4 linked regions of the Homo sapiens genome follow. The protein of the gene in region 1 interacts with the protein of each later gene in a biochemical or structural test. Each region holds a gene or a part of one and is shown in the gene's direction. Other genes may lie near its edges. The genes, in order: STAT3, NMI, PTPN1 and PTPN2.

Region 1 (7,039 bases):
CTCACTGCAACCTCCTCCTCCCGGGTTCAAGTGATTCTCGCACCTCAGCCTCCTGAGTAGCTGGGATTACAGGTGCCCGCCACTACGCCCGGCTAATTTTTGTATTTTTAGTAGAGATAAGGTTTCACTATATTGACCAGGCTGGTCTCAAACTCCTGACCTCAAGAGATCTGCCCACCTCAGCCTCCCAAAGTGCTGGGATTACAGGCGTGAACCACCTTGCCTGGCCAACATATATATACCTTTTGCAACTTTGTCAGAGTTGCTATGAAGAATAAGTTGTATCTTGTTCACAGAAATTGCAGTCTACTGGGGGAGCTGATAAATGTTTTAACCATCCAATGTAACATGTTGTCATCAAAGAGATGGTGAGACTTTACACTTGTGCTAACAAGGTAGCTGTTCTACATAAAAGAACATACAGTACAGATGTAGAACTTTTCTGTTATCATAGAACGTTCTATTGGACAGTGCTAGGCTGAATGCTACAGATCTTCAGAGAAAGGAGAGGTTATGAGGCCTGGAGTTGTCTAGAAAGTCTTTTTGCCAAAGAGGGATTTCAACTGGGTCCCAAATAATGGGTGGAATTTGATAGGTGTAAAGAATTTGCGGTGGTTTATGCCTGTAATCCCAGCACTTTGGGAGGCTGAGGCAGGAGGATTGCTTGAGCCCAGGAGTTTGAGACCAGCTTGGGCAACGTGGTAAAACTCCCTCTCCCCTAAAAATAAAAAAAATTAGCCAGGCCTGGTGGCGTGGACCTGTAGTCCCAGCTACTGGTGAGACTAAGGTGGGAGGATCACCCAAGCCCCGGGGGTTAAGGCTGCAGTGAGCCGTGATCCCGCCACCGCACTCCAGCCTGGGTGACAGAGTGAGACCCTGTCTCCAAAAAAAAAAAAAATTCCTGGTAGCCCGGTAGACTAGGAGGGTAAGTAGGGGAGAAGTGATTACTTACAAAAGACATTGAATACAGGACCAAGGAATTTCAGTTCTGTTCTTTTGTAGGGGAAGCTTTTAAAACTTTCGGGGCGCCGGGCGCGGTGGCTCACGCCTGTAATCCCAGCACTTTGGGAGGCCCAGACGCGCGGATCACGAGGCCAGGAGATCGAGACCATCCTGGCTAACACGGTGAAACCCCATCTCTACTAAAAATACAAAAAAAAGTAGCCGGGCGTTGTGGCGGGCGTCTGTAGTCCCAGCTACTCGGGAGGCTGAGGCAGGAGAAGAGCGTGAACTCGGGAGGCGGAGCTTGCAGTGAGCCGATATCGCACCACTGCACTCCAGCCTGGGCGACAGAGCGAGACTCCGTCTCAAAAAAAAAAAAAATAAATAAATAAATAAATAAATAAAACTTTGGAGCCGAAGCACTGATGTTTAATCATAGAGTGCTTACTATGTGTTAGGCACAGGCCTGATTGCCTGATGCTGGTTAATTTGTACAAAGTAAATCAGTGCATATGCCCTCTGCCCTAGGGGAGTTATTAACTGGAGTCTGACATTGTACAAAGGTAGGTATCCTGACTAGTTTGATTTGGTACTTTGGGTGAAAAAAGTATAGTGTGCTTAAGTGCAGAAGTGTTTTTTGAGGATTTTTGATTGGATACAAACCACCACTCATATTTTATGTCTTTGGCACTTAAAAATTTCACCATAACTTTTGAGTCATTTATAAAAACCACTGAAAGAGTACTTGAGGGACATCCCCGAATCCTGAAGAACTTCTGGTGTTCTGGAGCAGCCTCAGTGAGATCCAGGAGGATGGCATTGCTGGGCTGGCCCAGCCCTTATTGATTATGGTGTAAAGAATTAATATGGTGGTTATATACTCTTTGTTAGACACCTTGGCTTACAAGACGTAAGCGTAAAGTGTAGTGCGCTTTAGTCAGTATGGCCACATGGTCCTTTGGTGGTAAATTGTTTGAGATGCCTCCAGTTTTTAAAAGGAGTAGCATATCGGGCCAGGAGCAGTGGCTCATGCCTATAATCCCAGCACTTTGGAAGGCCGAGGCAAGAGGATTGCTTGAGCCCAGGAGTTCAAGACCAGCCTGGGCAACATAGTGAGACCACTTTGTTTCTTTAAAAAAAAAAAAAAGGCAAAAACAGGCTGGGCATGGTGGCTGATGCCTGTAATCCCAGCGCTTTGTGAGGCAGAGGTGAGCGGATCACTTGAGGTCAGGAGTTTGAGACCAGCCTGGCCAACATGGTAAAACCCCGTCTCTACTAAAAATACAAAAATTAGCCAGGTGTGGTGGCACACGCCTGTAGTTCCAGCTACTCTGGAGGCTGAGCCAGGAGAATTGCTTGAACCTGGGAGGTGGAGGCTGCAGTGAGCCAAGATCCTGCCACTGCACTCCAGACTGGGGGACAGAGTGAGACATTCTGACAGTGCTACACTGAATGCTACATGTCTTCAGAGGAAGGAGAGGTTATGAGGCCTGGGAATAACATATGGAAGAATGAATTTCTGTTATGGTCAGTTCTCATTTGTCATGTTAGGATTACTGCAACTCTTACCCAGCCGGGTGTGGTGGCTCATGCCTGTAATTCCAGCACTTTGGGAGGCTGTGGGCGGATCACGAGGTCAGGAGATCGAGACCATCCTGGCTAACACGGTGAAACTCCGCCTCTACTAAAAATACAAAAAATTAGCCCAGCGTGGTGGCAGACGCCTGTAGTCCCAGCTACTCAGGAGGCTGAGGCAGGAGAATGGCATGAGTCCTGGAGGCGGAGCTTGCAGTGAGCTGAGATCGTGCCACTGCACTCCAGCCTGGGCAACAGAGTGGGACTCCATCTCAAAAAAAAAAGAAAAAAAAAAGGATTACCGCAACTCTTTAATTCAGATCAGCAAACATGTTGAGAGCCAGGTATTGCGTCAGGCAGGATCCAAGGATAATGAAATATTGTCCGTTTTCATGAAACTGGAGATGTTGCAGGGACCGAGGTGTGTGCTATGCCAGTATGGAAGTAGGACAGGGGAGACGACAGGGCAGTGAGTGGTTCAAGACTCTGGCTCTGAAGTCAAACAGATCTGGGACTGAATCCTGGATCTGCCACTTCCTAGTCAGAATCTGAGCCTCTATTTTCTTATCTGTAAAAGAAGATTATAACAGTGCTTATCTTGTAGGTACTGTTGACGATTCAATAAGATAATGTGGATAAAATGCTTAGCATAGTGCCTGGCACATAGTAAGAGCTCGGTAAATCTAAGTTCTTACTAAATATCCAAGAAAAGAGATTAATTCTTTTCAGGAGTGAGAGAAAGTCATCATTATTGAGGGGCTTTATCAGATGGGAACACCTGAATAGGGTTTTATAGGATGAATAGGAATTCTTTCCACGAAGTTGCGTTACAAAAAGTTGCATTCAAGGCTGAAGGAACATGAGGGTGCAGAGGCTTAAAACAGCCTTGTGTGTTCAGGGAGCTATAAGTAGAAGTTCTTAATTTAGGAGAACTAAACCAAGGGGAAAGGAGGCCAAGGAACCACAGTTCTTATCCCTTTTCTGTTAATAATTGGGTTTAAATGTCATTAAAATAAGTTATTTTGTCCTTTTTAGAAAAGTAATAACATGCTATTATAAAAAAAAAGACTTGTAGGAATATAAAATGTGTGTTTTACATGTATCCTGTTAATTGACTTGCTTTTATTCAGATTTTTTGCAGCCCTTTCTGTTTACCAGGTTATCTTGGAGACATATTTATTCCAAATTCCTTTTTTTTTTTTTTTTTGAGATGGAGTCTCGCTCTGTCGCCCAGGCTGGAGTGCAGTGGCGCTATCTTGGCTCATTGCAAGCTCCGCCTCCCGGGTTCACGCCACTCTCCTGCCTCAGCCTCCCGAGTAGCTGGGACTACAGGCGCCCGCCACCACGCCCAGCTAATGTTTTTTTTTTTATATTTTTAGTAGCGACAGGGTTTCACCGTGTTAGCCAGGATGGTCTCAATCTCCTCACATTGTGATCCGCCTGCCTCGGCCTCCCAAAGTGCTGGGATTACAGGCGTGAGCCAGCACGCCTGGCCTTCCAAATTCCTTTTAACAGCCTAGCAAAAGAATAATAAGGAAGGTAAATCTGCCCCTACAAGAAAATAATGCTTCGACGATCCGGCTTTCCTTCCTGCTACCCCCAGCCATAAGAATAAATGACCTTGCTCATCACTGAAATTTTACCTGACCTTTGAATTTTTAACTGCGTCAGCCAAAGAACTTATATTTTGAGTATTCCTAAGGTGATTGCTATTGTAGTTTTGAAACACTTGGTTGGTATGTTTGAGGGTTTCATGGTCCAAAGTTACTATAGCAGTTAAAAGAGTGGACTATCAGGTCAGACCTATTGGGCTTTAATCCCAGTTCTGCCTTCTCTTAGACCTTGGGCCTGTTGTTTTCACTTCTCTGGTTTTCAGTTTCTCTGTCCACAATTGTGGAAACGAGGTCCACTTGTAGAGTAATTGAGAGGATGAAGCAAGATGATGCATATCAAGTACTTTGCATAGTGCCGGGCAGACAGGTAACATTCAAGTGCTAATAATTACTATTATTACTATTTATTTTTTGAGACAGGTTCTCACTCTGTCACCTAGGCTGGAGTGCAGCGGTGAGATCACAGCTCATGACAGCCTTGACCTCCTAGGCTCAAGTGATCCTCCTGCCTCAGCCTTCGGGGTAGCTGGGGCTACAGGTGTGTGCTACCACCCTCAGCTAATTTTCTAATTTTTTTGAGTCAGGATCTCGTCACGTTGCCTAGGCTGAATTACTCTTATTAAAAACTATAATATCAGGCCGAGTGCGGTGGCTCACGCCTGTAATCCCAGCACTTTGGGAGGCCAAGGCGGGTGGATCACCTGAGGTCAGGAGTTCAAGACCAGCCTGCCCAACAGAGTGAGACCCCCCCCGTCTCTACTAAAAATATAAAAATTAGCCAGTTGTGGTGGTGGGCACCTGTAATCCCAGCTACTCGGGAGGCTGAGGCAGGATAATCGCTTGAACCCGGGAGGCGGAGGTTGCGGTGAACCGAGATCGTGCCACTGCACTACAGCCTGGGTGACAGAGTGAGACTCTGTCTCAAAAAAACCGAAAAACAAAAAGCATAATTAGGGTGGTAACGCTTATACATAGGGGCAGGTGGAATAAAACATAATTAGGAGGTCGGGCATGGTGGCTCACGCCTGTAATTCCAGCACTTTGGGAGGCCGAGGCGGGTCAGGAGTTCAAGACCAGCCTGCCCAACATAGTGAGACCCCGTCTCTACTAAAAATATAAAATTTAGCCTGTTGTGGTGGCGGGTGCCTGTAGTCCCAGCTACCCGGGAGGCTGAGGCAGGAGAATTGCTTTTGAACCCAGGAGGTGGGGGTTGCAGTGAGCTGAGATCGCGCCGCTGCACTCCAGCCTGGGAGACAGAGCAAGACTCCGTCACAAAAACAAAAAACAAAAAACTGTCATATCAAAAACTAAACTAAAATGGTAATATCTGTTAGATATTACAAAGTCAGGCAAATTATGATTCATGGCAGCCACTAATGACCCAAAGGAGAGAAAGAATAATTAGCAGATTCTAACCTAATGGGAAAAAAACTAAATGAATAGGGATGGGGGACTTACATTCTGTTAGAGGAAATTGAGGCTGTCATATAAAAGGAATAGGTAAGGCAAACTGTAAATTCCTGTTTACACAAATGCCCTTCTGATAAATCTCTGCATTGCCCACAGTCCATGATTACCTCTCCCTTATTTTAAGTAATATTTAACACATTAAAAATGGATTACCACCCAAGGAATTGCTCCCGACCCAGAAAGTGCAGGTAGTGTTGAAGGTTTGAGGGGAAGAGGAATGATTAGAGTTGGTTGTGTCTCAGGAAGAAGCCAACAGGAGGAACCTTATTTTGAGTCAGGTAAAGAAGGTGGGAGTGAGGAGGCATCCCGGTGGCCAGGTATGAAGCTGGGAGCTGATTGCTGCACATTACTCAGCTGAATTAAATGTGCCCTCACATCTGTGTGTGTGCGTACATGCAAATGTACATGTGTATGAGTTAGTTGGAGGGGTAGACCTTTATTTTCCTGTCCTGTAACTTTCCTTTGCAAACTAATCTGTATTCAGAACAGTGTTGCAGTTAAGAACCACCCAGCTTGTCCATGAAACAGGTTCTCTCACCCCATCTCCCCAGTTTTAGAGAAGGCAGGAAAGAAAAGGCAGTGCTTTTCTTTTTTCCTGGCCGTATGCGGGGCAGGAAGAAGCCAGCAGAGCTTGAAAGAGAAAGTAAACCTTCTGGGAAATAAACGGCTTGGCTTCCCTATTGTGGAGGAGGAGTGCAAATTATTAGGGGGATGTTTGGGTAGTTTTTGTAGAAGCCATTTCTGAAAACTGATTTGGATTAGTGAAGGTAAGCCCAATTTAGGAAAACCCTGCCCAGTCTGGTGTCAGCCACCTGTTTCCCGCTTTGTTTGATTGATTTGATTAGTTTGTGGTATTCTGACCTCTCATTTTTATTACAAGAGTTGGAAGATTTGAGTCTGAACTTGAGCACCTGCTTCGGTGAAAGCTTCCTAAAATGCATGTTTTTTCACATTTTTTCTCATGTTCATTTTGTTTTGCTTTTTAGCAAACACTTTTTCTGACAGAATCTAAAAGCATTAGACTTTTCTTGTTTTCCCCTTCTCTCCCCACAATGTAATCTTGAAAACCCAAATGTTAGCTGTGTAAATTACCTCTCCCGTAAACCAAACAAAGTGCAATATTGCATTGAGTTAGCATTGAAATAGTCGGCCTTTGAATTTTTTTCTACTTGTGGTTTAGACATAATAAATATTTCATCTCAGACTGACTTTCTCGACAAATCAGTTTTGCATTTGGGCCTCTTTTCATCAGTATGTTTAGGGAAAGCACATTTATTGAAACATTAACCAAAATGAAACATAATTAGGAGGCCGGGAGCGATGGCTCACGCCTGTAATCCCAGCACTTTGGGAGACCAAGGCATGTGGATTGCTTGAGGTCAGGAGTTCAAGACCATCCTTGCCGACTTGGTGAAATCCTGTTTCTACTGAAAATACAA
Region 2 (2,738 bases), on another chromosome or scaffold:
TGATCTGTTCATCTGTTGGTGGATGCTTGGGTTGCTTCCACCTTTTGCCTATTGTGAAAAATACTGCTCTGAGCATTAACGAGCAAGTATCTGTCCGAGTCCCTGCTTTCAGTTGTTTCGGGTATATACCCAGAAGTTGAATTGCTGGATCATATCATGTTCTATTTTAATATTTTGGGGAACTGTCATACTGTTTTCTACAGTGGCTGTACCATTTTACATTTCTATCAGCATTGCCTCAGGGTTTCAATTTCTCCATATTCTCGCCAATGAGGGCCTACACTCTTAATCATTGTACCATATTGCTGATCCAAGGTAGATGAGTGAGAAGAGTCATAAAAAACATGGTTGTATATTCCCAAGAACTGTTTTTGTTAAATGTTACAGTCTTGACACACATCCTTTCACCACTCTAGGAGAAAAAAATACTGCTAAAAAATAGACTATTCTTTGTGTTGTAGAAAACTGATGAATTTTTATTTCCTTTCAGTTTTTCTAGATGACATTCAATCCCCTCCCTGCTTTGGTTAACATCATTACTTCAGTTTATTGAATATATTGAAAAAAATGTATATAGTATTCTAATCATAGTTTTCACTTACAGCTTTTGAGAAACTGGGAAACAGTCCAGTCTTGTTAGATGAGTGGGTTACTTTCTGCAAAAGACTATGGTATTTTTTATAGCTCAAAGTAGATCTGTCTGAGGACATTGCAACCCTTTGTGCATTGATTGACTGCAGTGAATAATTCAAGATGGAATGAAGGCTTTAAACCTCATTATTGTTTGGTCTTGTAGTTTTCAAAATTATGTACTGTGAAGTCTTCAAAGTGGGCTTTAGAATTTCTTAAAAATTAATCTTTTAACTCAATATTTACTGTAATAGTGTTCTCTTTGAAGGAAGTTTTAACTTTGGTTAAAAATGCTTATGATATAAAAAAGACAAGTATTGTTTTTGTTTTGCTTTTAGTGGCTGACAAGATTTTGAAAAAGAAAGAATACCCTCTTTATATAAATCAAACCTGCCATAGAGTTACTGTTTCTCCATACACAGAAATACACTTGAAAAAGTATCAGGTAAAGTCATCTCTGTTCTCTCATTTTCAGAACTCACTGCCCAAACCCACCCCACAAAAAATAAAGTTGTTGTGAGTCTGTTACTTATGCATCTTATCAATGAGGGATAGCAAAATGGTTTCTTTACTTCATTTTTGCTTGGTGCAAAATGAGTTTGTCTTTTGAAGGAGCATTTTAATGCAAAACTGTACTTTATTATACAATTTTTAAAACTGAAATTACTCAGATAATGGCACAATTTTTATTTTTGTACATGGAGACATAGTTGCATTTCTCTCATATGTCTACTGTCAGTGAGCATGAGAAAGAATTCCTGCCTACTTTCTCTGAACTCATTATCTTTACCCCAGACCTGCTCCCTTTTCCTCTTCCTTCTCAGGTATCCAATGGTACCACCATCTACCTACTCCACCAACTTAAAAGCTAGAACTCATACTTAACTCTTCAGTTTGCTTCACCTCCAACATTCATTTGGTCACTAAATCTTGCCAGCTCCACTTCTGACTACCTCTTTACCTGGTCTTTCTGTTCCCAGAGCATCCCTCCTTTCCTCTGTGTTCCATAATGCCACCAGAGTTCTCTTTCTAAAACTCAGATCTGACTTGGATATTCTCTTGCTTGGAAAATCTTCCTAAGATTTCTTGTCTCTTCTAAGATAAAATAAAAAATATTAAGCAGAGATTATGAATGTAAAGTTTTGTAATTCAAAGCTCTTAGAAATCTTTCTATTTATCATTTTTTCCTTCTTAGATATTTTCAGGAACATCTAAGAGGACAGTGCTTCTGACAGGAATGGAAGGCATTCAAATGGATGAAGAAATTGTGGAGGATTTAATTAACATTCACTTTCAACGGGCAAAGAATGGAGGTGGAGAAGTAGATGTGGTCAAGTGTTCTCTAGGTCAACCTCACATAGCATACTTTGAAGAATAGACTTAACAGAATCATGAAAACTATAGCTTTTTAACCCGGATTACTGTAAATGTTTGACAAAAATGAATATGCTTTTCCTTAAAAAATGAAAACTTTAATTTTTACCATCCATTTATGTTTAGATACAAAACTTATTTCCATGTTTCTGAATCTTCTTTGTTTCAAATGGTGCTGCATGTTTTCAACTACAATAAGTGCACTGTAATAAAAAGTTTTGTTTATAGATTATGTGTATTGGTGCCATGTCTGCTGAAATCAACCTTAAGTGATTCAGATGTCCCCTGCCAGTGCTGGCTCATCCTGTTATGGTCTTGTGGGCCAATTCAGTTGTGGCCCCATGCCCACCAATATGCAGACTTGACTCTTAACATTTTCCAAAACAAAGGCAGTTACATTCAGCAGTTGGTGATTCCTGTAAACTCAACTGAAGATTCGAAGGACTTCAAGAGCAACCATTTACCACTGTGCATAGCATTTCACTCCACAACTCTAAAGGTTCTCAGAGCTGAGTGTGATCTTTTTCTTGAATTTCTGTTCACCCAAGTGCCAAGTGTCCCTTGATTCCTTCCAAGCCATCCCCTCTCCAAATAGAGCTCGTAAAGGACTAGCTTTTTCTTTCTTTTGCACTTACAATGGAAACAATTGGTATAAGAGTTTGAAAACCTTGGCATGGAGAGAGAGGTAAATACAAAGTTAGTGACTCATCACTTATCATGCTCGATGCTGGGGA
Region 3 (6,983 bases), on another chromosome or scaffold:
GGCATTTATTTACTTACTTAGCTTGACATACAGGGACAGGAATGAACCAGCCCTGTTTTTGTTCCAGGATGCTCTCAGGATTGTGAGTTCCAGACAAACCAGAACCCAAAAAGTATAAGGGTTTAAGGGCGGGAGGAGCACAGGAGTCTGGACAGTCACTTAAAGGAACTAAGACTTCAATTAGGTAGCTTCCAAGTGTGGCAGCTCCCACAGTTTTCACTGGAATGGGCATTTTTGTTAATTTTTCCCCTATGGAATGCTCACTTTCTAAAGACACTGCTGATCAAGCTAATTGCATGTATTCAATAACATTTCATTTATCTCCTTTATTTGCTATTATTTAAAGATATGTAGTAATGACAGTTAATATTTATTGAGCCACTCAGTATACTAAGAGCATGATATGTACTCATCCAACCTTCACATCAGCCCTATGAGGTGGGCACTTTTATTATCTCTGTTTTACAAAGGAGAGCAGAGACTAATGAAAATTTGCCCAAGTTTGCACCACTAGTATTTATTCAGCTGGAACCTGGACCCACGAAGCCTGGCTCCAAAGCAGGCTCTGGAAACCAGGCTAGAATGCAGGTTTCCATACCAATGTGCAATGCTACTCTGGACAAGTAATTTTGTCTCTCTGTGCTTCAGTTTCCTCATCCATTTTTTTTTTTTAAGACAGAGTCTTGCTCTGTCACCCAGGCCCGAGTGCAGTGGTGTGATCTTGGCTCACTGCAACCTCTGCCTCCCAGGTTCAAGCAATTCTCCTGTCTCAGCCTCCCGAGTAGCTGGGTCTACAATCACACGCCACCATGGCTGGCTAATTTTTTTGTATTTTTAGTAGAGATGGGGTTTCACCATATTGATCAGGCTGGTGTCGAACTCCTGACCTCAGGCGATCACCCGCCTTAGCCTCCCAAAGTGCTGCGATTACAGGCATGAGTCACCGCACCCGGTCCCCCCCTCATCTAATTTTTTATTTTTATTTTAATTTAATTTATTGTATTTATTTATTTATTTTTTGAGATGGCATCTTTCTCCCGTCGCACAGGCTGGAGTGCAGTGGTTCAATCTCGGCTCACTGCAACCTCCACTTCCCAGGTTCAAGCCATTCTCCTTCCTCAGCCTCCCAATTAGCTGGGATTACAGGTGTGCACCACCACACCCATCTATTTTCTGTGTTTTTAGTAGAGACAGGCTTTCACCATGTTGGCCAGGCTGGTCTTGAACTCCTGACCTTAGGTGATCCACCTGCCTCAGCCTCCCAAAGTGCTAGGATTACAGGTGTGAGCCACCAGGCCTGGCCTATTTTTATTTATTTATTTTTTTTGAGACAGTGTCTCACTCTATCGTCCAGGCTGGAGTGCAGTGACATGATCATGGCTCACTGCAGCCTCAATCTCCCAGGCTCAAGTGATTCTCCCATCTCAGCCTCCTGAGTACCTGGGACTACAGGTGCACGCCACCACAGCCGGCTAATTTTTTTTTTTTTTTTTGAGACAGGATCTTGCTCTGTTGCCCAGGCTGGAGTGCAGTGGTGCAATCTCAGCTCACTGCAGCCTCTGCCTCCCAGGTTGAAGTGATTCTTGTGCCTCAGCCTGCCGAGTAGCTGGGATTACAGGCATGCACCACCACACCCTGCTAATTTTTGTATTTTTAGTAGAGTTGAGGTTTCACCATGCTTGTCAGGCTGGTCTCGAATTCCTGACCTCAAGTGATGCACCCACCACGGCCTCCCAAAGTGGTGGGATTACAGGCGTGAGCCACCACAGCCAGTCAGTTTTCTCGTTTATAAAATGGGAATAATAGCACCTGTATTGAAGGGTTGTTGTGGAGATTGAATGGGAATGTGTACTTAGAATTCCAGGCATAGTGCCTGCCACAAGCACTCAAGGAATGAGCTGGAGTTCAGCTGATAATACCAGGCAGTGTCTCTGGGCAACACGGAATGAAGACAATTCTCTCTTCCAGGTTTTCAAACCTCCTGGAATTCACAACGTCCACATGACATGCCAGGCCCAGAGGGGGATGGTTTAAACTGGAGCCTGCAGGAAGGCAACCTGACCAACCTGCTCATGGGTGCTTTAAGGATCATAGGTACGAGAATCAGCTGGAGTTGTTGGTGAAAATGCAGATTCCGGGTCTCATCCCTAGACCAAAGATATCTGAATCATTTGGCGATGGGTCCAGGAACCTGCATTATTCAACACACTTCCCAGGTGACCGTAAATGTCAAAAGACAAAATTACAACAAACTTAAACATCTTAATTGGCTTCATTCATGATTCTAGAATCGGGCAAGACTTCATTCCTCAAAATAGCACAAGTGTCCCAATGAGCTGAGCAGAGGAGGTTGGTTTTATAGACAGAAAAGGGCTGAAAAAAGCAGAAACAAAGAACAAAAAGCAGATTGGTCATTTCAAAGTTACTTTCCTTGTAAGGCAGGAACAGGGAAACAGAACAAGAGAGAAATAACTGATTGGTCGCATCGGGTTACTTCAGGTTACTTTTTGTTGTAAGGATTAAAGCAAAGGGAACTTCATTATGTTGATTAAAACGGTCTGCTTGGGAAATCAGGGTGTGTATCTCTCTTCTGATTTTGTGAAAGGTTATCAGTCTGATGATGTAGAACTTTAGCATGAGTGACTCCATTTTGATTTTTAGTCTAGTCTGTTGAGACCCTAATGCCAGAACTTTTTTTGTTTGTTTGTTTCGCTCTTGTTGCCCAGGCTGGAGTGCAGTGGAGCTATCTTGGCTCACTGCAACCTCTGCCTCCAGGGTTCAAGCGATTCTCCTGCCTCAGCCTCCCAAGTAGCTGGGATTACAGGCATGCGCCACCACGCCCGGCTAATTTTTTTTTTTTTTTTTTTTTTTAGCAGAAACCGAGTTTCACCATGTTGGTCAGGCTGGTCTCGGACTCTTGACCTCAGGTGATCCACCTGCGTCGGTCTCCCAAAGTGCTGGGATTACAGGTGTGAGCCACCACACCCAGCCCTTTTTTTTCAAGACAGGGTCTCTCTCTGCCACCCAAGGTGGAGTGCAGTGGCGCCAAAACAGCTCACTGCAGCTTCCACCTCCTGGGCTCAGGTGATCTTCCTGCCTCAGCCTCCCCAGCAGCTGGGCCCCACCACACCGGCTAATTTTTTAACTTTTAGTAGTGACGAGGTCTGATTCTGTTACCCAGGCTGGTCTGGAACTCCTGGCCTCAAGACATCCGCCTGCCTCTGCCTCCCAAAGTGCTGGGATTACAGATGTAAGCCACCGCGCCTGGGCTCCTATGATTTTTATTTAACATAATGCACCATGGAATTTGTGCTCTGCTTAGTTCAGTCTGAGCAGGAGTTCCTTGATACTTCGGGAAACACTGAAAATCATTCCATCCCCATCCATTCATTCCTGCAGCACCCAAGTGGAAATTCTGCGTTTCAGACAGGGACACTACCCTTAGAGAGCAGTGGGCTTCCCCAGCAGCGTAGTGAAACATGATACTCCTGAGTTTCATGAAAAAAGGGCAGACATCTGGCCAGAGCTGGGAGGCAGGAAATAGAGCACGGTGCCCTCCTCCCATACTCCAGCTTGGATTACTGAGGCTGGGGCCCAGGCCCTGCAGGAAAGGAGGTGCATGACTACTTTAAGGCCACTCACTCTGTGACTCAACGGGCCGGGTCGGGGCTGGAACTCAATGCCCTCCCGGGCCTGGAGAGCCCACGCGCCGTGGGCGGGGCTCCCGGGGTCGCCTAGGCAACAGGCGCGCGCCGCGCCCGAGCCCAGAGCCCCAAAGCGGAGGAGGGAACGCGCGCTATTAGATATCTCGCGGTGCTGGGGCCACTTCCCCTAGCACCGCCCCCGGCTCCTCCCCGCGGAAGTGCTTGTCGAAATTCTCGATCGCTGATTGGTCCTTCTGCTTCAGGGGCGGAGCCCCTGGCAGGCGTGATGCGTAGTTCCGGCTGCCGGTTGACATGAAGAAGCAGCAGCGGCTAGGGCGGCGGTAGCTGCAGGGGTCGGGGATTGCAGCGGGCCTCGGGGCTAAGAGCGCGACGCGGCCTAGAGCGGCAGACGGCGCAGTGGGCCGAGAAGGAGGCGCAGCAGCCGCCCTGGCCCGTCATGGAGATGGAAAAGGAGTTCGAGCAGATCGACAAGTCCGGGAGCTGGGCGGCCATTTACCAGGTGCGGGAGCGCCCCGGAGCGTGGCGGGCCCTTCGCTTAGGCCGCTTGAACATCCCCTCAGACCTCCAGGCCCCAGACTCCCTCTGGGTCTTGCCCTCTGCCTCGCTCCTACTGCTTGAGGATTCGATGGGACAGCGACGCACTGCGTCCCCCCACCCTTTGTCCCCGGGGCGGGCGTGTTTCTCGCCGCAGCGTCGGAGCCCCCTTCGATCCCCCACCTCCCTTCTGTTCTCCAGCTCGGGTGATCTCTCAAGCCGGGGGACCGCCGGTCTGTGCTCTCAACGCGAATCCCTCGCACCCCGACCCCGCCCCCTGCCTGTCCACTCTTTGTCCCCTGGGGTGATTTAGCACCCCCACTATTTCCTTTTCTGGAGTGGACCACCTCAGACTCTCTTCCTTTGTCTCCCTGGGGGAAAAGGTTACTCCCCCCGTCCCTCCTTCACATTTCCTTTCCCCTAGTCTCAGTGTGCGTCGAGTCCCAGAGATGACAGTCCCCTTTCCCCTTTCTGTTCATTCATTTATTGGATAGGAGTTGGCAAGCTTATTCTGTGCTAGGCACCGCTTAGGCATTGGAGGTGGTGTTTGCTAATCAGGACAGGCAAGATCCTAGCCTTAGTGGGGCCTAGAGTCGAATAGGGCAATCAAACACAAAAGCAAATAATTTCAGATAGTGACAGGTGCTGTGAAGAGAACGACTTCCTAACGGGGTACAGGGTGACTGCATAGAAGGCCGGCTGTCTTAGAGAAGGGGATCAGGGAAGGCCTGTCAAAGGAGGAGACATTTGCTTTGTGAGCTGAACCAAGAGGAGCAGAAAGCCGTGAGAATATGGGGCTAAAGAACCTTCTAGCCAGGAGGCCTGCGGTACCCACTCCATTGGGGCCATGATATTATTCTTTCAGGCAGGGACTCAGGAAGGTTAACGTTTTAACCCTCTCTAAAATAGCATCTTTCCTCAATGAGCAGCTTAGTCTTTGGTCGTGGCAGAGATGACCTTGTCTTAGGAGTCATCTCCTTGTGTGTTAAAAAGTTAGGAAAGGAGGGTTTCTCATATATCTATAAAACAAGTAGTTAAAAACACAAAGAGCTCTTCCTTTCACAAGCAGCTGAATAAGATACATACTCCCAATTAAATGTCATTGCGGGGGTTGTTAAGATTAACTAAAACCACACTTGCACAGTATCTTAAATAAGCGATATACAGAATAGAGAGATTTTGTTACTTGTGTAAAGGGAGACAGCAGATGATTCTGTTTTCAGCTTATAGGCTCAAAAGGCAAATTGTGAGATCCATCAGCTGTAGTATTAAAATCTATTTTGAGCTCCGCTTAGAAAGGAAAAAAGGTTTAAGCAGTTCTTTGGTATGCTTGACTAACAAAAGCCTTTTTTTTTGGCAGCCTTGATTTTCATGTGGATTTACATCAAGCTTATTTGACAGGATTCTTTTTATTTGGACTGTAGTGTGTATATTAGTTTCTGCTAGACTAATATTTCTAACCACTGTAATCTATATACTAATAAGTATGATTGATCAGTATATAAAATTTGTATGCCATATCTGGTCTCTGAATTAGCTGAATGAATTCCATAAGGGACTTTGAGACTGTGTAGACAAATTTTCTGCATCAGTTTAATGCAGTAGAGTCTAAAATGTCTTTAAATGAAAATTGTTGGTCTGAAGTGTTGGAGTTGATTATGATACACCCCATCACAGTGGAAGCATTGTGGAGAGAAGTCTTTTCCACTGAAATTGACTGAGTTGACAACAAGAAATACGTATTGTAACTTAGTTCTTAGTTGAATTTTATTTCTTACAATTTTAAGCCAGAGTGGGTTGACCTGTCACCCAAGCATGGTTAAAATTGTATTCAGCATGCAACTAGCATGGAGTGTGTCAGTCTTCAATTCATTTCCTTCATTGTTCTTAAGTTTTTCTGCCACAATTAAACCCCACAAGTTAGTCAAGGTGTTGAGATTTTCACTGCTTCTTAATGGATTGCCACATTCCCTGAGGTAGTTTCTTTTGGTCTTAGAGAATTGTCAGGGCCAGCTTTTCTCACCTCCACTGTATGGATATTTTTCTTTTCTAAGATCTTGAAATCAGAAGCTTTTCTCCTAAGTGTAAAAGTAGCTCTTTGTCATACAACTGTAGCGTTTTCTGAAACAGAGTTCAGATGACCTTGAGTCTAAAGTGGCTAACTTTCCAAGGTGTGTATCGCTTTACCAAAACCATTATTTTTCAAGGATTCAAAGAATGTGTTTACAATTGATAGAAAATGGAAGTTTAAAAAAATTAATACTTTATAGCATGTTGAAATGAGGGCAGCCTTATACAAAGTCATACTTTGAGCTTGCCTAGCCTATTGTGATCAGAGAATAATGTAATTTTTGCTTACAACTTGGTAAGCAGGTCAGTTATTCTAACTTATTTTCTGATTAGAACAAAAAGATGTAAAAACTTGAAAACTATTGGGAAAAGAACAAAGAGTGAAGAGGACTTTTGAGTGCTGAGGAATGTGGCAGCTTGGAAAACAAACTTTTTAGGCAGAGATTCTTTGCTAGGTCAGTTTGATAAAGTGAGCATAACCGTATTTTTAATCTTTAATGCTAATGAATAGCATAGATGCTAATAAGCATCTAGGTCTATAAAAAGTCAGCTTTGATAGTGTATATAGATGGCTTTAAACATTGTTTTCTAGCATTTAAACACTTTCAAATCATCCGGTTGCTTGATTGGGCCTAGCTGTCTAAGAGGAGAGAATGAGCCCAGATGAGGAAAAGAGATTGATTTTACTGAGCTAGAATGAGAGGAGAGAGGGTT
Region 4 (7,039 bases), on another chromosome or scaffold:
AGACAGGGTTTCGACATGTTGGCCAGGCTGGTCTCGAACTCCTGACCTCAGGTGATCCGCCTGCCTCGGCCTCTCAAAGTGCTGGGATTACAGGCATGAGCCACTGCTCTGGGCTGATCATATTTACTTGTTAGCAAGATCGTTCTGACTGCTAGCAGACTGGATGAGGAAAGTGTAGGCACGCAGCACAGGGCAGTAGTCGGTTGGAGTAAACCTGAAGAGACATGATGAGCTTCTGTTAGGCAGTGGCAGGAGGGATGGAGGGGAGATACAGATTTGAAATGAAATGGTAAAGGGGTATACGTTATGTACAAGTTTGGTTTTGAAACTTTAATTCTGTTTGAGGTACCTGCGAGACACTGAAATGAAGCTAGTTGAATGTATAAATTTGGAGTTCGGGAGAGAGGGTCTGAGTAAATGTGATTTTGGAAATCATGAACACATGGGTGATATTTGAGGTCTTAGACATTGATGAGATCATCTAGGGAAGATACAGAGCGTTTGGAAATATCAAAGGCCAAGGACAGAATCTTGACAGACAACATTTAAAAGGATGGGTGGAGAAAGAGGAACTTGCAAAAAAGACTGGTGAGGAACAACCACAGAAGTGGGGAGGAAAGCAGTGGAGGGAGTTGAGGGTGAGCAGGGCCACCTGACAGGTAAGGGCCAGCCTGAGAGGGCCATGACATTGAGCAGCTAGATTAACAGATACCTTAAAGGGAGTTGTGTCAGCGGACTACACAAGACAGATACCTGGAGTTCAGGAGAGAAGGTAGGAGGAAATGCAAACTACCAAGTGTACACTGCTCTTTTTAGAAGCCCAACTTGAAGAAGTGGGGAGAGGTAGCTAAAATGAAGCAAGATTGTGTGACTTCTCACTTAAACCCTTGAACGGCTTTCCGTTGCTCACAGTGTAAATTCAGCCCCTCCTCCGGCTCACAAGACCTCATGGCCTGTGTCTCTTGCTTGATTTCCCCTATCACTTTCCTCCCTCTTTTCCACTGTGTTGTATTCTTGGAAGTGTGTGTGTCCATTCTCCCCTTAGGGCGTTTGTAAATGTTGTTCTCTTTGCCTTGGCACAACTTTCCCCCCTTCTCTTTCCTTTCTTGCTTAAACTGCCTCCTACTCATCCCTGAAGTCTCACTTCCTTGGCAGGCCTTCTTGACCTGCCCATGCTGGGTATGAGCCCCTGTTGCGTACTTCTTTAGCATCCCAAGACTTCCCCTTTCATAGCGGGAATTGGATGTCATACAGCAGCAAATGATTTCGGGAACACAATTTGCATTAAGCAAACCACTATCTTGAAAGTAACACAGCTTGAGTAGGAAAAAAGTGTTTAAGGTGGCTTTCTGCTTTGTTTAGCACAGCAGTGGGTGATGTTTCTGATAATGTTTTTGAAGAGTTGTGCTTTTTTTGGTAATGCTCATGGAGCTGGGAAAAGAAAGGCTTTGCTCTTGAGCAAAAACTGAGTACAACTAAAAGCTGGACTTGCTTAGTGGTAGGAGAACTTGATACCTTGTTGAAATTCTAGCGGGAAAAATGAATTTAGTATTTTGAGTCTGGAACTCTGGTCCCTTATTCCTTTTTGCTCCTTTTGAAAAGTGTCTTTTATTTCATGAGTTTGATAATAGGAGGTTTCTTAGAAATGAATTATTGGGTTGGAGCAGAACAGACTCTGTTAATCTGAGTTTATATTTTTTATTACTTCTTCAGAGTTTCATGAAGGCACTGCCAGTGCTTTGCACAGTATCAGGTGCTTAGTAAGCACTTGAAAATATGTGCTGAATGAATGACTTTTTACGAGGAAAGGGCAACTTGATATATTTATGTGATTGCAGGGATGAACCTAAAGAGAGAGGTGGAGGTTGAAATAGAAGGGATGATTGTTGGAGCCAGAAATCTTAGAAAGCAAGAGTCAATGGGACCAAGAGCACACAGGTGGAAGAATTGATCGTGAAAGAGTGCTGGCCAGGCGGTGGCTCATCCCTGTAATCCCAGCGCTTTGGGAGGCTGAGGTGGGAGGATCACTTGAGGTCAGGAGGTTAGGGCTGCAGTGAGCCATAATTGTGCCACTGCACTACAGACTAGGTGACAGAGTGAGATCCTGTCTCTAAAACAAGAACAGCAAAACAAAGGGTGCAGTTGGAAAAGTTTAATTTGGTCTGATTGTGTGAGGTTAATTCTGACTTTTTGAGTAATGTTCATGATCCCTTTTTGGCTTTTCCTTTTGTCACTGCTGATTGCTGTCTTCATCAGGCTGAGCTTTGAGAAAGGCAGAGAGAAGGAATGGAGTCTGTGTGCCTACTGAGGAAAAGACTAAAACTGGGGAATCGCAAAAGCTATGTTATGGGTTGTTTCTAAGAAGTGATGGCTCAGAAGGAATTTGGCTTATTTATTTTTAAATTCCTTTCTTTTTTAAAGAGTTCTCACTCTGTTGCCCAGTCTGGAGTACAAGTGCAGTGGTGCAATCATAGCTCACTGCAACCTTAAACTCCTGGGCTCAGGTGAGCCTCTCACCTCAGCCTCTTGGAAATTGGTTGATTAATTAGGGTTTATAAACAATGGAACTCCTGACTGACTTCATTTTTCTTTTTTTGAAACCAAGTCTTGCTCTGTCCCCCAGGCTGGAGTGCAGTAGTGTGATCTCAGCTCACTGCAACCTCTGCTCCCCCCAGGTTCAAGCAGTTCTACTGCCTCAGCCTCCCGAGTAGCTGGGATTACAGGTGCCCACCAGCACGCCCAGCTAATTTTTGTATTTTTAGTAGAAACGGGGTTTCACCATGTTTGTCAGGCTGGTCTTGAACTCCTGACCTCAGGTGATCCACCTGCCTCGGCCTCCCAAAGTGCTGCTGGGATTACAGGTGTGAGCCACCACGCCCAGCCACATTTTTCTTTTTCTTTCTTTTTTTCCTTTTTCTTTCTTTTTTTTTCTTTTTCTTTCTTTTCTTTTTGAGACTGGGTCTCACTTTGTCACCCAGTCTGGAGTGCAGTGGCGTGATCTCAGCTCACTGCAGTCTCGACCTCTTGGGCTTTAGACATCCTCCTGCCTCAGTCCCCCACGTAGCTGGGCCTGGCTAATTTTTTTGTATTTTTTGTAGAGACAGGGTTTAACTATTTTGCCCAGGCTGGTCTTCAACTCCTGAGTTCAAGCAATCTGTCCACCTCAGCCTTCCAAAGGCTTAGGATTACAAGCATGAGCCACTGTGCCTGGCCATTTTTCTTTTTTCTTTTTCTTTTTTTGAGACAGTCTTGCTCTGTTGCCCAGGCTGGAGTGCAGTGGCGTCATCTCGGCTCGCTGCAAGCTCTGCCTCCCAGGTTCACGCCATTCTCCTGCCTCAGCCTTCTGAGTAGCTGGGACTACAGGCGCCCGCCAACACTACAGGCGCCCGCCACCACGCCAGGCTAATTTTTTGTATTTTTAGTAGAGACGGGGTTTGACCGTGTTAGCCAGGATGGTCTTGATCTCCTGACTTTGTGATCCACCTGCCTCGGCCTCCCAAAGTGCTGGGATTATAGGCATGAGCCACTGCGCCTGGCCGCCATTTTTCTTTATTAGAAATTTGTAGTTCAAATATTGCTAGAGAACAATTTTTACCATTTGTGAGTCAGCTAATTTTTAGAAGTCAGATATCAAGTGCACACTGTTCTTCTCATACTTACAGCGGGGCAGCCAGTTAGGCAGGTGAATCAAAGCTGTCTTATTCTAAAACACTTCCCTTGCCTACTAGTTACACATTCTCCTGCCTGCTGTCTAATCTCAGTGCTTTTACATGGTTGCACAAACTCTGAATTCCCTTGAAGATTGGCTACTCTCTCACACCTTGGAGTCTTCATGTGTTGGATATACTCCATGCCTACCATATCTATTTGGGAAACATCTTCAAGACTAGACCGTAGTCTCCTTGGGCAAAGTTAAATGCTCCCCCTTCTCTCATTTCTTAGTTCTCTATATTCTTTTATTAGAATATGAACCACATTGTTTTGTAACTGTCTACTTGTCTGTTCTGTGTAGCTCCTTGAGGGTGGTCTTTTTTTTTCTTTGTTTTCCCACCACCTACCTACGGGACCTGAAACATGTTAGATGCTCAGTAAATATTCAGTAAACACAGGAAAACTGTTCCCTTTTAAAATGTCAGCACCTTAGTTTATTCCAAACCCCTCATTTATGGCTGAGGAAACACTGGGCCAATACAGTGTTGTGACTTATCTGATGTTACAATATCTGCTAGTGTCATAACTGGGACTCAAATCCAGTCCTTCTGATTCTCGTTTCAGCACTGCCCTAATTTACCCATGTGACTACCTGTAGTGCTTTCTTCTTATGATCTATTTGAGATCAGTGGCACAGAGGGAATCGTCTTAATTTTGATGGCTAGGAGGGAGTGGATGTGTTATAATAGGTAGGGTCATTTTGGGACTTGAGGCCTTTAAAACAGTGTCTGGGATCCAGGGATCAGACTTGAAAGGTATTTGCAAATCTCCTGAAACTGCTAAATTTTATGTACGTGTGTTCCCAGGTATTTCGTTTCTAGGTGATTCTGTAGCTTTTGTCAGTTTCTTAGTGGATTTGTCTGTGATCCCTCAAAAGGTAAAGACCACTGCTTGAAGGGAAAGCAGCCTTGGGATGGGTGCCCCAATGGGGAATGTATACCTAGAAATCATATTGTTTTGCCTTTGACATGTGTTTATAGATTACTGATATCTATAATTACGGAAATCCAGATAGTTGCGTTTGTCTCCTAGCTTTTCTAGTTGCCTCTTTTTTGATTTCTTGATTTTAACCAGAATCTTCTTTTTTTCTTGAGAAGGGGTCTCATTCCGTCACCCAGGCTGGAGTGCAGTGGCACGATCGTAGGTCACTGCAGACTCAAAACTCCTGGCTCAAGTGGTCCTTTGCCTCAGCCTCCCGAGAAGCTGGGACTACAGGCACACACCACCACGCCTGACAAATTTCTTCTTCTTCTTCTTCTTTTTGTTGTTGTTCTTGTTGGCCAGGCTGGTCTGGTCTTGAACTCCCGGCCTCAAGTGGTCTGCTCACCTTGGCTTCCCGAAGTGGCGAGATTACAGGCATGAGCCACCATGCCCAGCCCTTAACCAGAATTTTGTTTTGTTTTGTTTTTTGAGACAGGGTCTCACTCTGTCACCCAGACTGGAGTGCAGTGATGAGATCACGGCTCACTGCACAGATGCACGCCACCATGCTTGGCTAATTTTTTATGTTTTGTAGAGACAGGTTCTCACCATGTTGTCCAGACTGGTCTCGAACTCCCGGGCTAAAGCGATCTTCCGGCTTCACCCTTCCATAATGCTGGGGAGCCACAGTGCTTGGCCAACCAGAATCTTAAAAGCCCTTTTTACTTTTTCCAGATAGTTACTCTGCAGAGAATTTCTGATTCCCAGTTGGAGAACTGTTACAGCTCTCTCAGTCCCCTGCTGTTCTTTTAGCTACCTTGTCTTTGTCCTCTTACCTGTCCACTCTCTACTCCCCTTCTTCCCTTTGGTCTCCAAATAGTCCAGATAAACCAGAGAGATGGACAGATAAGGTCTGGGTACGCGAAATTAAAATTAACATAGTGTGCTCTTCACTTTCTTGAATAAACGTTACGTATGATTTGTTTCCCTTGGAAATCCTCATCTAGATTCTCTACTCTCTATTCCTTAACTTAATGCCCCATTAAGGTAGTTTTTTCTTAATGGAAAGCTGTTGAGAGTCAGAGGATATTTAAACCAACTAATAAACTGAACTTTTAATAATACCACCCTTACTTTGGATAAGAGTGATTAGCCATATACTAAATCCTCAATCAGTTTAGCATGTAAAATTTAAGACATAGCAGCTGATAACTGAGGAAGAGATACATTTCCACAGGCTAACTTTAAAGAATATAAGCTCTCACTTTCCTGAGTAGAAGAAAACTAAACTTTTCTGTTCTATGCTTTTTTTTTTTTTAATTTTTATTTTTATTGATCATTCTTGGGTGTTTCTCACAGAGAGGGATTTGGCAGGGTCATAGGACAATAGTGAAGGGAAGGTCAGCAGATAAACAAGTGAACAAAGGTCTCTGGTTTTCCTAGGCAGAGGACCCTGAGGCCTTCCGCAGTGTTTGTGTCCCTGGGTACTTGAGATTAGGGAGTGGTGATGACTGTTAACGAGCATGCTGCCTTCAAGCATCTGTTTAACAAAGCACATCTTGCACTGCCCTTAATCCATTTAACCCTGAGTGGACACAGCACATGTTTCAGAGAGCACAGGGTTGGGGGGTAAGGTCACAGATCAACAGGATCCCAAGGCAGAAGAATTTTTCTTAGTACAGAACAAAATGAAAAGTCTCCCATGTCTACTTCTTTCCACACAGACACGGCAACCATCCGATTTCTCAATCTTTTCCCCACCTTTCCCTGCTTTCTATTCCACAAAACCACCATTGTCATCATGGCCTGTTCTCAATGAGCTGTTGGGCACACCTCCCAGACAGGGTGGTGGCCGGGCAGAGGGGCTCCTCACTTCCCAGTAGGGGCGGCCGGGCAGAGGCGCCCCTCACCTCCCGGGTGGGGCGGCTGGCCGGGCGAGGGGTTGACCCCCCCACCTCCCTCCCGGACGGGGCGGCTGGCCGGGCGGGGGGCTGACCCCCCCACCTCCCTCCCGGACGGGGCGGCTGGCCGGGCGGGGGGCTGAACCCCCCACCTCCCTCCCGGACGGGGCGGCTGGCCGGGCGGGGAGCTGACCCCCCCCCACCTTCCTCCCGGACGGGGCGGCTGGCCGGGCAGAGGGGCTCCTCACTTCCCAGTAGGGGCGGCCGGGCAGAGGCGCCCCTCACCTCCCGGACGAGGCGGCAGGCCGGGCGGGGGCTGATCCCCCCACCTCCCTCCCGGAAGGGGCTCCTCACTTCCCAGTAGGGGCGGCCGGGCAGAGGCGCCCCTCACCTCCCAGACGGGGCGGCTGGCCAAGCGGGGGGCTGACCCCCCCACCTCCCTCCCGGACGGGGCGGCTGGCCGGGCGGGGGGCTGAACCCCCCACCTCCCTCCCGGACGGGGCGGC

The links.
Region 2: the proteins of STAT3 (region 1) and NMI form a complex in vitro, tested with the Homo sapiens proteins (one study listed by BioGRID).
Region 3: of the proteins of STAT3 (region 1) and PTPN1, one has a biochemical effect on the other in vitro, tested with the Homo sapiens proteins (2 studies listed by BioGRID and IntAct).
Region 4: the proteins of STAT3 (region 1) and PTPN2 form a complex in vitro, tested with the Homo sapiens proteins (one study listed by BioGRID).

What each region holds. Positions count from the first base shown.
Region 1 is NC_000017.11:42,378,417-42,385,455, reverse strand, and holds part of STAT3 (signal transducer and activator of transcription 3), read left to right. Parts: intron 1-7,039. UniProt on the Homo sapiens protein: Signal transducer and transcription activator that mediates cellular responses to interleukins, KITLG/SCF, LEP and other growth factors. Once activated, recruits coactivators, such as NCOA1 or MED1, to the promoter region of the target gene.
Region 2 is NC_000002.12:151,269,963-151,272,700, reverse strand, and holds the end of NMI (N-myc-interactor), read left to right. Parts: intron 1-968; coding exon 969-1,075; intron 1,076-1,825; coding exon 1,826-2,008; 3' UTR 2,009-2,231; downstream 2,232-2,738. UniProt on the Homo sapiens protein: Acts as a signaling pathway regulator involved in innate immune system response.
Region 3 is NC_000020.11:50,506,427-50,513,409, forward strand, and holds the start of PTPN1 (tyrosine-protein phosphatase non-receptor type 1), read left to right. Parts: upstream 1-3,956; 5' UTR 3,957-4,101; coding exon 4,102-4,164; intron 4,165-6,983. UniProt on the Homo sapiens protein: Tyrosine-protein phosphatase which acts as a regulator of endoplasmic reticulum unfolded protein response. Mediates dephosphorylation of EIF2AK3/PERK; inactivating the protein kinase activity of EIF2AK3/PERK.
Region 4 is NC_000018.10:12,874,229-12,881,267, reverse strand, and holds part of PTPN2 (tyrosine-protein phosphatase non-receptor type 2), read left to right. Parts: intron 1-7,039. UniProt on the Homo sapiens protein: Non-receptor type tyrosine-specific phosphatase that dephosphorylates receptor protein tyrosine kinases including INSR, EGFR, CSF1R, PDGFR.